3 linked regions of the Homo sapiens genome follow. The protein of the gene in region 3 purifies or fractionates together with the protein of the main gene of each other region. This does not show direct contact. Each region holds a gene or a part of one and is shown on either strand. Other genes may lie near its edges. The genes, in order: TNKS2, ALDH5A1 and PAGE4.

What was found.
Region 1: the proteins of PAGE4 (region 3) and TNKS2 purify together in Homo sapiens (affinity purification with mass spectrometry; 2 studies listed by BioGRID and IntAct, with this or other methods). This does not show direct contact.
Region 2: the proteins of PAGE4 (region 3) and ALDH5A1 purify together in Homo sapiens (affinity purification with mass spectrometry, with the first as the bait; one large-scale study listed by BioGRID). This does not show direct contact.

What each region holds. Positions count from the first base shown.
Region 1 is NC_000010.11:91,801,357-91,805,008, forward strand, and holds part of TNKS2 (poly [ADP-ribose] polymerase tankyrase-2), read left to right. Parts: intron 1-3,652. UniProt on the Homo sapiens protein: Poly-ADP-ribosyltransferase involved in various processes such as Wnt signaling pathway, telomere length and vesicle trafficking.
Region 2 is NC_000006.12:24,497,940-24,501,591, reverse strand, and holds part of ALDH5A1 (succinate-semialdehyde dehydrogenase, mitochondrial isoform 2 precursor), read right to left. Parts: intron 1-3,652. UniProt on the Homo sapiens protein: Catalyzes one step in the degradation of the inhibitory neurotransmitter gamma-aminobutyric acid (GABA).
Region 3 is NC_000023.11:49,827,682-49,831,433, reverse strand, and holds the start of PAGE4 (P antigen family member 4), read right to left. Parts: upstream 2,132-3,752; 5' UTR 2,083-2,131; exon of another isoform or gene 2,069-2,082; intron 1,036-2,068; 5' UTR 1,006-1,035; coding exon 928-1,005; intron 438-927; coding exon 350-437; intron 1-349. UniProt on the Homo sapiens protein: Intrinsically disordered protein that potentiates the transcriptional activator activity of JUN. Protects cells from stress-induced apoptosis by inhibiting reactive oxygen species (ROS) production and via regulation of the MAPK signaling pathway.

The sequences.
Region 1 (3,652 bases), on a different chromosome or scaffold from region 3:
CTAGATAAATATTATTTAAGAAGTAATTCCTTAGGAGAAAAATGACTCTGTAAATTGTTTCCTTTTCAGTCCGCCTGCCACTGCCCCCGACCATACGCAGATATACACAAGACAGGAATTTTTCTTTTTTTTTTTGAGATGGAGTCTAGTTCTGTCTCCCAGGCTGGAGTGCAGCGTCACGATCTCAGCTCACTGCAACCCCCACCTTCCGGGTTCGACCGATTCTCCTGTCTCAGCCTCCTAAGTAGCTGGGATTACAGGTGCGCACTGCCACGCCCGGCAAATTTTTGTATTTTTAGTAGAGACAGGGTTTCAACATGTTGGTCAGGCTGGTCTCAAACTCCTGATCTCGTGATCCGCCTGCCTCGGCCTCCCAAAGTGCTGGGATTACAGGCGTGAGCCACTGCGCCCGGCCAGGAATGATTTTTTTCCAACACAACAGAATTTGTAGAGGCAAGTTGGTGGTAGGGTGGCTGTTGCTCTAATTTTACTAAAAGCAAAAGTATCTGAAATTCTTGACAGTTAATGCCCTAGAAAACAGCAAATTTCAGTAAAGAAGACTCTGCTTCTGTGAACTTATTTCTAAAAAGTAAAGAAGAGGTGACACAAACTTGGGGAGAAAGTTATCTTGATGCCCATCATAGAAATGAAAGAAATATGTGGCATTCCTTACAATCTTAGAACTCTTGGAGTAGGGGTAGGAGCTTGCATTGTAGAGTCCTAGCTAAACAAGGTAACACTTATTTTATATTTATAGTATGTTATGTTACTGTTAGTATGAGTATGCTACTGAACCACATACATAGGACCAGTTAGACCGGACTTGGATTATTATATTCAATTGTGTGAATCAAATATAAGAGGGGATTTTTTTATTCAGAGGAGGAAAGTGGAATCAGAGCATCCAGAATTTATTGCACAAGCATAGATACGAAAATTAGTGCTGCTTATTCTAGAGATGAAAGAAGACTATACCATGTTATCGTCTTCACATATGTGGAAGAATCACAAAGAGTGAGTGGATATTACTTGTGTGGCTTTGGGAGTCAAAACTAAGGCCAGCAGGTGGAAGGTTACAAGGGGTCAGACAACCTTTAACAATATTCAGCGATCGAACTGTCTGGAAGTATCCAAGCAGTGGCTGGATTGGCATTTTTCAGAGATGTTGTAGAGAGGATTTCAGCCTAGTTCGACCAACAGGTTATAATCTCACTAGTACAAGAAAGTGGGATGATTCCTCCAATTGAAGGCTTTAGCTGCTCAGCTACCAAAGATATACTAGCTTTTGTGATTGCCATTCATATCTTTTCCCAAAATGATAACCATTGGAGACCTCCAATAACCTCTCAGTAACATTTTCTTCTTTGGCTGTAGGCCAACATCATAGTTACAAGAGATGCACAAAATTTATCCAACACTCTTCACCTAGAACTACAGTTATAGATTGTTGTTTTCAGGATTGGTTTTTGCTATGGGAGATAAATCATACATCAGCAGGAAACCCTAGTGTCAAATAAAGATCAGTCTATTTAGGAATTCATCATCTTTCTTGACTTATCAAATCTCCCAATGTATTATCAAGACTTTGAGCTATACCTTTGCCCTCAGCGCTTGCTGGATTTGGAGGTAGACAGTTGACTTCAATAACAAGAGTTTGGAGTACTCCTTTCAGTGTACCCCCATTCAGATGGTCAAAATTTCATCACCGTAGAGGCCATGGCGTTCTTTTCCAAGTTTCTACTAATCTGGCCAGACAGTATGTCTATCCCAAGTTGAGATGGGCAAAGTCCTCTCCCTTGTATTCTTCGTTCTTAAGAAGTATATGTGGGAAATAATTTTCTGGATCTTAGCAAACTAAAGTTAATAGTAAATGAGGCCCGGGCACAGTGCCACAGGCTATAATCCCAGCACTCTGGGAGGCAAAGGCAGGAGTATCACCTGAACTCAAGAGTTCAAGACCAGCCTGGGCAACAATGGTGACACCTCATCTCTACAAGAAAATAGAAAAATGAGCCGGGCATGGTGGCACAGAACTGACACTCTGGGAGGCAAAGACAGGAGTATCACTTGAGCTTAAGAGTTCAAGAGCAGCCTGGGCAACATGGCGAAACCCCATCTCTACAAAAAAATAGAAAAAGTAGCCAGGCATGGTGGTGCAGGCCTGTAGTCCTAGCTACTTGGGAGGCTAAGGTTAGAGGATTACTTGAGCCAAGGCTGCAGTGAGCCGAGATTGCGCCATTGCACTCTAGGCTGGGCAACAGAGGGAAACCTTGTAACACAAAATAGTAAATGAGAAGTTTAAAATGACATTCCTCAGAAAAAATGTGTCACTGAGAGTCCTGGCTAAAGGTTGCTTGAAAGCTGAAGGCTGTTTGATTATACCTTCCAATCTCCCAGACTACAGGAGCTTTGTTTTGTGGCATTTGTTGACATTTTTCCAGAACTTTGCCTTTGGACAAAACCCTGTGTGATAGCCTACCTTTAGATATTGCAAGACATCACCATCTCATATGGGACCAATTGTGTTATCAGTGATTAATCCCACCTTTGGACTATGAAAGACAGGAGGGGGATAGCATTTAGTTAAACTTCCTAAGAGTCTAAGTTGGTTTCTCTGTAGGAACTTGACTGCCTCACAGCTTTTGGGAAACCATTCAGATGAAAGCATGTTTCCAGTGTAGCAGCAAAATGTGATATTATTAACAATAGTCATAGTTAGCAAGCAGTACCTGGAGTTGCTGAAACTGATGGCATCTAGATAAGTAATAAATTTGACAAGAGGCTGCTTTTCTCTGTTTTCACAAATCATTAACACCATATTCTTTGTGAGGATCCTTTCCTATTCCAGCAGAGTATTAGACATGCATTAAACAAATGTTTGTCAAGTCCTGCTATATGCCAGACACTGACCTTGTCCCTGAGTAAACTGAAATGAACAGGACACAATACCTGCCATTAACTGACACATGGTTAATGTGGTCAACAAGTATACTTTACAGATAGGCCTGCTTTGCTTCACTGTAAGTACTATATAGTAGATTCATACTCTGTGTATGGTTTCATCAGAATTTTCACAAGTAGAACAGTGTTTGAAGTTGAGTGCTGTTCCATAATTACAAAATAAACTACAGTGTGTCCTGAGCAGCCATGACTACCAACTTTATTTAGGCTTCTGGTTCCTCATAAAGAGATCCTTAGAATATGGAGATTTACATTGACTCTGATGATATGCCTATTCATGTTCTACCTGGCCAGTGAGAACATGATCAGAATATACCCTGCAGAGCATTTTTTCTTCCAGAAATTGGTGCTTAACAGAAGTACTTTGAACTATTCTTGAGACCATAACAATAGAGATTTTATCAAGGATTACTCCTCAGTTTGGGAAGTATGGTTTTTTGGGGGTTGTGGGGGTGAGGCACAGAGTTTCACTCTTGTCGCCCAGGCTGGAGTGCAGTGGTGCGATCTTGGCTCACTTCAACCTCCACCTCCCAGGTTCAAGCAATTCTCCTGCCTCCTGCTTCAGCCTCCCGAGTAGCTGGGATTACAGGTATGTACCACCACGCCTGGCTAATTTTTATATTTTTAGTAGAAACAGGGTTTCACCATGTTGGCTATGGTGGTCTCGAATTCCTGACCTCAGGTGATCCAC
Region 2 (3,652 bases), on a different chromosome or scaffold from region 3:
GGACCACAGGCACACATCATCACGCTCAGCTATTTTTTTAACTCCTCTGTGTCTGTTACAACTTTAAGCAGAATGTGACTCAGGCACTACATTTCCATCCACGAGACTGGCTCTGAGTTATTTCTGAACAGCTTTATGATATGCTTAGGTAGGCTTGTAACTTTGCTTCTCCAAACTATACTTTTCTTTGGAAAACAAGCCCTGTGGAGAGTTCCTTCCATCAAGTTGATTCAGTTTAACCTATTTCTAGAGGACTAGTACATGCAGAATTGGCAACTACAGGGGAAGAAAAGTTCAAAAAGCAGACCCTACAAGAGGTAACAAATACTTTTTTTCTAAACATCAAGGGTATAGCTCAAGAACACTTCGATAACAAGATTTGGTCTACTAAGGAATCCGGCTTGATAGCTAAACACTTAGACTACCAAGTTAACATCATGTTATATACATCTTACAACGATTACCTTGATCTGTTAAAATAAGCATTTTACCTTGATCTGTTAAAATAAGATTACTTTGATCTGTGAAACTAAAAAAGCATTACTAGCTCTGCCTTAGTGCTTAAGGTATCACAGCATCACTTAGAAGTAGAAAGAAATCTTATCTTCCCCTTAAAGTCGTTGTTGTCATGCCATACAGACTTTTCATGCTAACAGGATCTACAGGATGATCATGCTCAGCTAATTAAAAAAAAATTTTTTTTGTACAGACAAGGTCTCACTATATTGCTCATGCTAACTGACCCTTCTTTGATGAGTAATAGAGATCCAATTTCAAGTTGCATCTAAAGAGGTATACTGCGTCATAAATTATAAAAGATAAAATAAGTTTTGTGGAAACAGCTATTATTGCTTATGGTAAATAAGAACAACTTTAATTTTACCATACAAAGGTATATAGTTCCCTACGTTATTATTATTATTATTATTATTATTATTATTATTTTAGATACGGTCTTGATCTGATGCCCAGGCTGGAGTGCAGTGGCGCAATCATAGCTCACTGCAACCTCAGACTCCTGGCTTTAAGCGATCCTCCTGCCTTGGCCTCCCAAAGTGCTGAGATTACAATCATGAGCCACCATGCCTGGACCATTCTACTTTCTGTCTCTATGAATCTGACAACTCTAGGTACCTCATATTAAGTAGAATCATACAGCATTTGCCCTTTTGTGACTGGCTTATTTCACTCAGCATAGTGTCTTCAAGTATTGTTCCCTATTATAGTGGCTCACTGGCAACCTGGATTTGTCCCAGAGACTGACATATGGACTGGGGCATGCATGAGGCATAAGAAAGGGTTTTACACACTTAAGAAGAGGGCCCAGGCACAACAACATGAATGCACTTAATACCACTGAAATGTACACTTAAAAATGGTTAAAATGGTAAATGTTATGTTATGCATATTTTGCCATAATTTAAAAAATTCCAATGAACAAAAAACAGATAAAGGGATACATTGGATTATTAACAATATTATGGGACCAGGTGTGGCGGCTCATGCCCGTAATCACAACACTTTGGAAGGCCAAGGAGGGAGGGTTGCTTGTGGCCAGGAGTTCAACACCAGCTTGGGCAATGCGGTGAGATCTGTCTCTACACACACACACACAGAAATTATCTGAGTGTGGGGCTGGGCGCAGTGGCTCGTGCCTGTAATCCCAGCACTTCGGGAGGCCGAGGCGGGCGGATCATGAGGTCATGAGATCCAGACCATCCTGGCTAACACGGTGAAACCCCGTCTCTACTAAAAATACAAAAAAATTACCCGGGCATGGTGGCAGGCGCCTGTAGTCCCAGCTACTCGGGAGGCTGAGGCAGGAGAACCTAGGAGGCGGAGGTTGCAGTTGAGCCGAGACTGCGCCACTGCACTCCAGCCCGGGTGACAGAGCGAGACTCCGTCTCAAAAAAAAAAAAAAAAGAAAAGAAATTATCTGGGTGTGGTGGTGCATGCTTGTGGTCCCAGCTACTCAGAAGGCTGAGGTGGGGGAATCGCTTAGGCCTATGAGTTTGAGGCTGCAGTGAGCCAATGATAGCATCACTGTACTCCAGCCTAGGCAATGGAGCAAGACCCTGTCTCAGAAAAAAAAGAAAAGAAAAAAGGAAGAAATGGCTTATTAAAAAAAAAATTAATTCATTCACATAAAACCACTTAAAAAAAGAAAATGAGGAAGGCCTAGAGAATCTAGGCCACCTGGGCTGCCATCAAGGCACTCTAAAGAGAGCGCTGCTCAGGCTGTAGCTTCCCACATCTGCACAGGTGTATTCAAAGCCAAGAAAAACCTTCATTTTTGTTTTTTGAGACAGTCTCGCTCTGTCACCCAGGCTGGAGTACAGTGGCGCCATCTCGGCTCACTGCAACCAACCTCCGCCTCCTGGGCTCAAGCAATTCTCATGCCTCAGCCTCTTGAGTAGCTGGGATTACATACAGGTGCATGCCACAATGCCTGGCTAATTTTTGTATTTTTTCTTTTTTTTTTTTTTTTTTGAGACAGAGTCTTGCTCTGTCCACCAGGCTGGAGTGCAGTTGGCATGATCTCGGCTCACTGCAACCTCCGCCTCCCAGGTTCAAGCAATTCTCCTTGGCTCAGCCTCCTGAGTAGCTGGGATTACAGGCGCCCACCACCACGCCCAGCTGATTTTTGTATTTTTTAGTAGAGATGGGGTTTCGCCATGTTGGCCAGGCTGGACTTGAACTCCTGACCTCAAGTGATCCACCTGCCTTAGCCTCCCAAAGTGCTGGGATTACAAGTGTGAGCCACCGTGTCTGGCCAATTTTTGTATTTTTAGTAGAGACAGTGTTTCACCATGTTGGACAGGCTGGTCTCGAACTCCTGACCTCAGGTGATCCACTCGCCTTGGCCTCCCAAAGTGCTGGGATTACAGGCGTTAGCCACCGTGCCCAGCCTGAACCCCTCCTTTCAAAAAGGAAGGTTCCCTGAGAAGATCCTAGCCCTTGTAAGATGGAAGCTGACATCACTGTAATGTTCAAGGGGCACAGACATTAGGATGGGCGGTGTGATCTGAACACAGGATAATGCTGCTAGTGTCAGCAAGAGGTCCCAACACCCGCCCTGCAGCTGCCAAACAATCACTGACAGACTAGAAGGCTTTCCAGACCCCTGCAGTGTAACACCATTGTATGGCAGCCTTGATCTTCGTGGGGCCTTGTGGGACTCCAGAATGATGCTAGGGGAACCAGGGCTCAGGCCCTGGTCCACTCCTTTCCTGTGATCTCACCATTTCCATAGCTGTAAGTATGTATGCAGTACACACAGGTATGAATTTCACATTTATATTTCTAGCCTAGGGTTCGCTCTCAAACCTCAGACTCATACACCCAACTGCTTACTTTACATCCTCTCTTGGGTGTGAACCGACATCTCAAACTCAATAAGTCTAAAACTGAACTCTTGATATCTCACCCTAATGCTGTTCAATTCAGCTATCCTCATCCTTCCAATTGCTCAGGCCAAAAGCCCTGGAGTCATCACTAACCCCTCTCCTTCACCTACTTTCTATATAATGATCCATCAGAAAATCCAGTGGGCTCTACCTTCAAAATACATCCTTTATGGGATAACTCTTCACCTTGTCCACTGCTACCACCCTGGTTCAAGCCACCGTGGCCTCCCACCTAAATCCGTGCA
Region 3 (3,752 bases):
GCAATGACTTATGCCCAGAAAAATAATATCCCAATAAAACCAAGTTTAACTCATGAAACAGTTTACAATTTTGTCTAAATTTAATGTAGTTTCCTTTTGTTTGCTAATATAGAGTCTTGGCAAGGATTGTATTTTCCAAGTATGCCAAAGAACTCTTAAGATATAAGATAAGTAAAATGCTGAAGAGAAAATTTATCACAAGGACTACAGCAGCTGAAAACTACACTATTCCCTTACCAAGGATTACTTTACAGGTTTCCAGCCAATTTTTAGGGGATGGTTTATTTATTCCTGTTACTAGTATAAAATCATACATGAAACACAAAATGCTCCTCCATGCCCTTCTCACCTTCGATCGGAGGTGTTCCTTCTCTCTCTTGTCCAGGTTCAATATCCTGATTGTCAGTTGGTGGTTCCTCTTGCTGAGATTCACCGGGCTTTTGAGAGGTGGGGGAGAGTAGATGCAAATAGAATATTGTTATTAATATCATGGCAATAGAAGTCACAAATATACATACTATGTGAAGGTAGCTAGTCACAAATAAATCTGAAGAGGTTTTTCCTATCTTCTCTGTAAGTACTCTTAAGAAAAGTTATTCTTCCTATATAGAATATACTTTAAGGAGTTACCTGCAAGGACCAATAATTCTGGAACCCATTTTCATCTTCTCTGGGCTGTATTATTTATTAATAAGCATGATAGGAAAGTCATAAGACTATTTCCAGACTCTTAAAAACATACATATGCAGACAATATCAGAAAATAAGTCTCCTTGCTCAATGTCTCATTAATGTGATTTAGTTTGCAACTATTTTCAGCAGGGAAGTCCTTTATATAACAGATCTATATTGGTTAACAATGTTTTAGATTTTCTTTCAGAAAAATACATTTCTGCCAATGGAAATAAGATACTGAAATGTACTCACAGCCACGAATGCAACCACATCGGGAGCCTCCTGACCATCTCCTCTTCCTCTGGATCTTGATCTCACTCGTGCACTCATCGCTGCAACTAGAAGATCGTGAACTGAAGACTGCAATAAAAAGGAGTAATTATACTTGACTCTTTCCATGGCCATCTGCTGATTGTAATTTTTTTTAATTTTGTGAGATTTCCATAATAGGTCCTGAGTTAATAATAACTACGCCTGGTTTCCAATCACATCAAATAAATCTATCTGCAAACTGCTTTGTTTCTTCCACAGCCAGCTCGGCAGAGAAGTGATCTTCAAGTCCTAGATCAAAACATGGGGTCTTTCCTAAAGAGACTTAATTTCATAACTAAACTCCATTATGAAGAGATTTTTTAATATACAGCCACCCCAGGTCCCCTCCTCCCCAGGTCCCCACTGAGAACTCCGAAACCTGTCCTCTTTCGGCAGTTTCAGGTGCCTCTGGGACTCAAAGATACCTCAAAAAGTACCCCCCAAGTTTTGCTCCATCTGATCCCTCTCCCCTCCGTGGCCCAACTTCCTCCCTCGCCCCAGCCCTGCCACAACCACAAGGTCATGGCGGCGCCACCACCTGTGAGGCCCTTCCTCCTCCGAGGCCACGGACTGTGCTGCCCGACCCTCCTGAAGCCCACCAGCTCCTCTTCACACTTAAACTCCCATGGAGGAACGATCGGTGGACCCACCCACTGAGTCTCAGTCTCAGGTGAAAGAGTCCCGACAATTGGAATGCAAACGGCACCCTCACAGCTCCGCGGCAGTTCACCTCGTGGGTGAAGGGGCTGATGGGAAGACCCCCAGTGAACACGAGCACTGAGGCAGGCGCTGTCAAGCGCGGGCTGTCCCACCCTTTCCCTGGCCCCCACTGAGGACCCCAGCATCCGTCCTTTATGGACAGTTTCATATGCCTCCAGGACTCAGATAGTGTCCCGCTCCAAAACTCACAGCATCTTGGCTGACCCTCCTCCCCTTCATGGCCCTCCTTCCTCCCCTGTCCCTGCCCCGCCGCATAGCTGCCTGCTAGGAGAAGGATGATGACCTCGAGGCCCTTCCTTCTCTGAGGCCAGGGACCACAGTGCCCGACCCACCAGAAGCCCGCCGGCCCACTCACTCACACCTGTTCTCACTTACACTTGAGTCAGCAGAGAGCCTGGCGAAGAATGAAGGGAAGAGAAGTGGCACCTACCTACTTCTGCCTCCTTGTTTAGACCTCAGCAGTGTCAACCCCACCAGCCAATCCCAAACCTCGGGGGTGTGTCACGTGGGTTGTCTTTCCAGCCCTCTCCCGCCTCCTAGAGGCTCTGTGCCACCTGGAGGAAGGGCCTGCTCGGTGCTGAGAAGGGCTTGTTTCTGGCTTCTGGCCCCTCCTGCAAAATGTTCTGTCCTTCTGGATCTAGGAATGTTCCCAGCTCTGCATTTCACCTGCAAATTTACCCTTTAATTTTTTCTCAGTGCTGCTACCTCAGTGGCCCTTAAGAGGGTATTCAGTCTTCCCAGAGATGCGTGAAAGCTTAGGTTCTCAGAGAGTGCAAAGCCATTTTAAGCATGATAGGAATCCAGAAAAAAATGTAAAGGAGAAGGATGATAAACCCACATACATAAATAAGCCTAAACATTTGCACAAAAATCCAGGCCAGGTGCGGCAGCTCATGCCTGTAATCCTAGAACTTTGGGATGCTGAGGTGGGTGGATTTCTTGAGCCCAGGAGTTCGAGACCATCCTGGGCAACATGGCAAGACCCTGTCTTTACAAAAAATACAAAAATTAGCTGGGCATGGTGGTGCACACCTGTAGTCCCAGCTACTTGAGAGGCTGAGGTGGGAGGATAGCTTGAGCCCAGGAGGTTGAGGTTGCAGTGAGCCAAGATCACACCACTGCACTCCAGCTTGGGCAACAGAGCAAGACCCTGTCTCAAAAAATAAAAAATCCTGTGACCCAGCATTTCTACTTCTAGGACTTTAATGTTAAGGAAACTGTCTTGAATGTTGACAAATATTCCTTGCTTGGCCAAACTTTTAAGTCAGGCTTCTGAAACTTCTCCTCCTAGGCCCATCTGTGCATTTCCTTGTAAAACCCAGTTTTAGCAAAGAGCCCTGCTAAGTCAATGTGGCATGAACCCTCCATCCTCAATATCTGATCATACTTGCTATCGCATGGGGTTCTTCATCTTCCACCATCCCCCAGGTGATGTCTGATTCCCCTTGGCCTGTCTTCAGCAAGAATCCTGCTAGGTGGGTTTAGCCAGAATCCCCCTTACCCCTGATGTTTCCTTTTAGTAATTTTCCACCCACGGACCGCCATACTGCTCCTTCGCTATACATTCCCACTGGCCTGCGCTGTATTCAGTATTGAGCCCAATCTCTCTCCCCCACTGCAAGATCCCATTGCAATGGTCCCTATACCCATCACCACAGTCCTAAATAAGGTTTTCCTTACTGTGCTTTAACAACTACCACTGAATGTTTTTTTTCTTTAACCATGTGAACAAAAATTTGGATACATGGGACTTCCAAAACAGCTTAATTTATAATAGCATGGTCATGGACTTGCTATATAAGTAAATTATGGCACACTTGAAAATGAAATATGGGTGACTACCAAAACCAGTGCTGAATAATATTTCCTGTAATAGTGGTGCTGTTCATTTTAAGTTATTAACTTGAAACATCCAGTTATGTAGCACTGTGTATGTACAATATGATCTCAAAAGAAAAGAGAGGTTCAATAGTGCTACCACACCACCAGCCTTCCTCTCAGACAGTAAGTGTGCTTTGTTCTTGTGCAACCAGCATGTTCTGGGG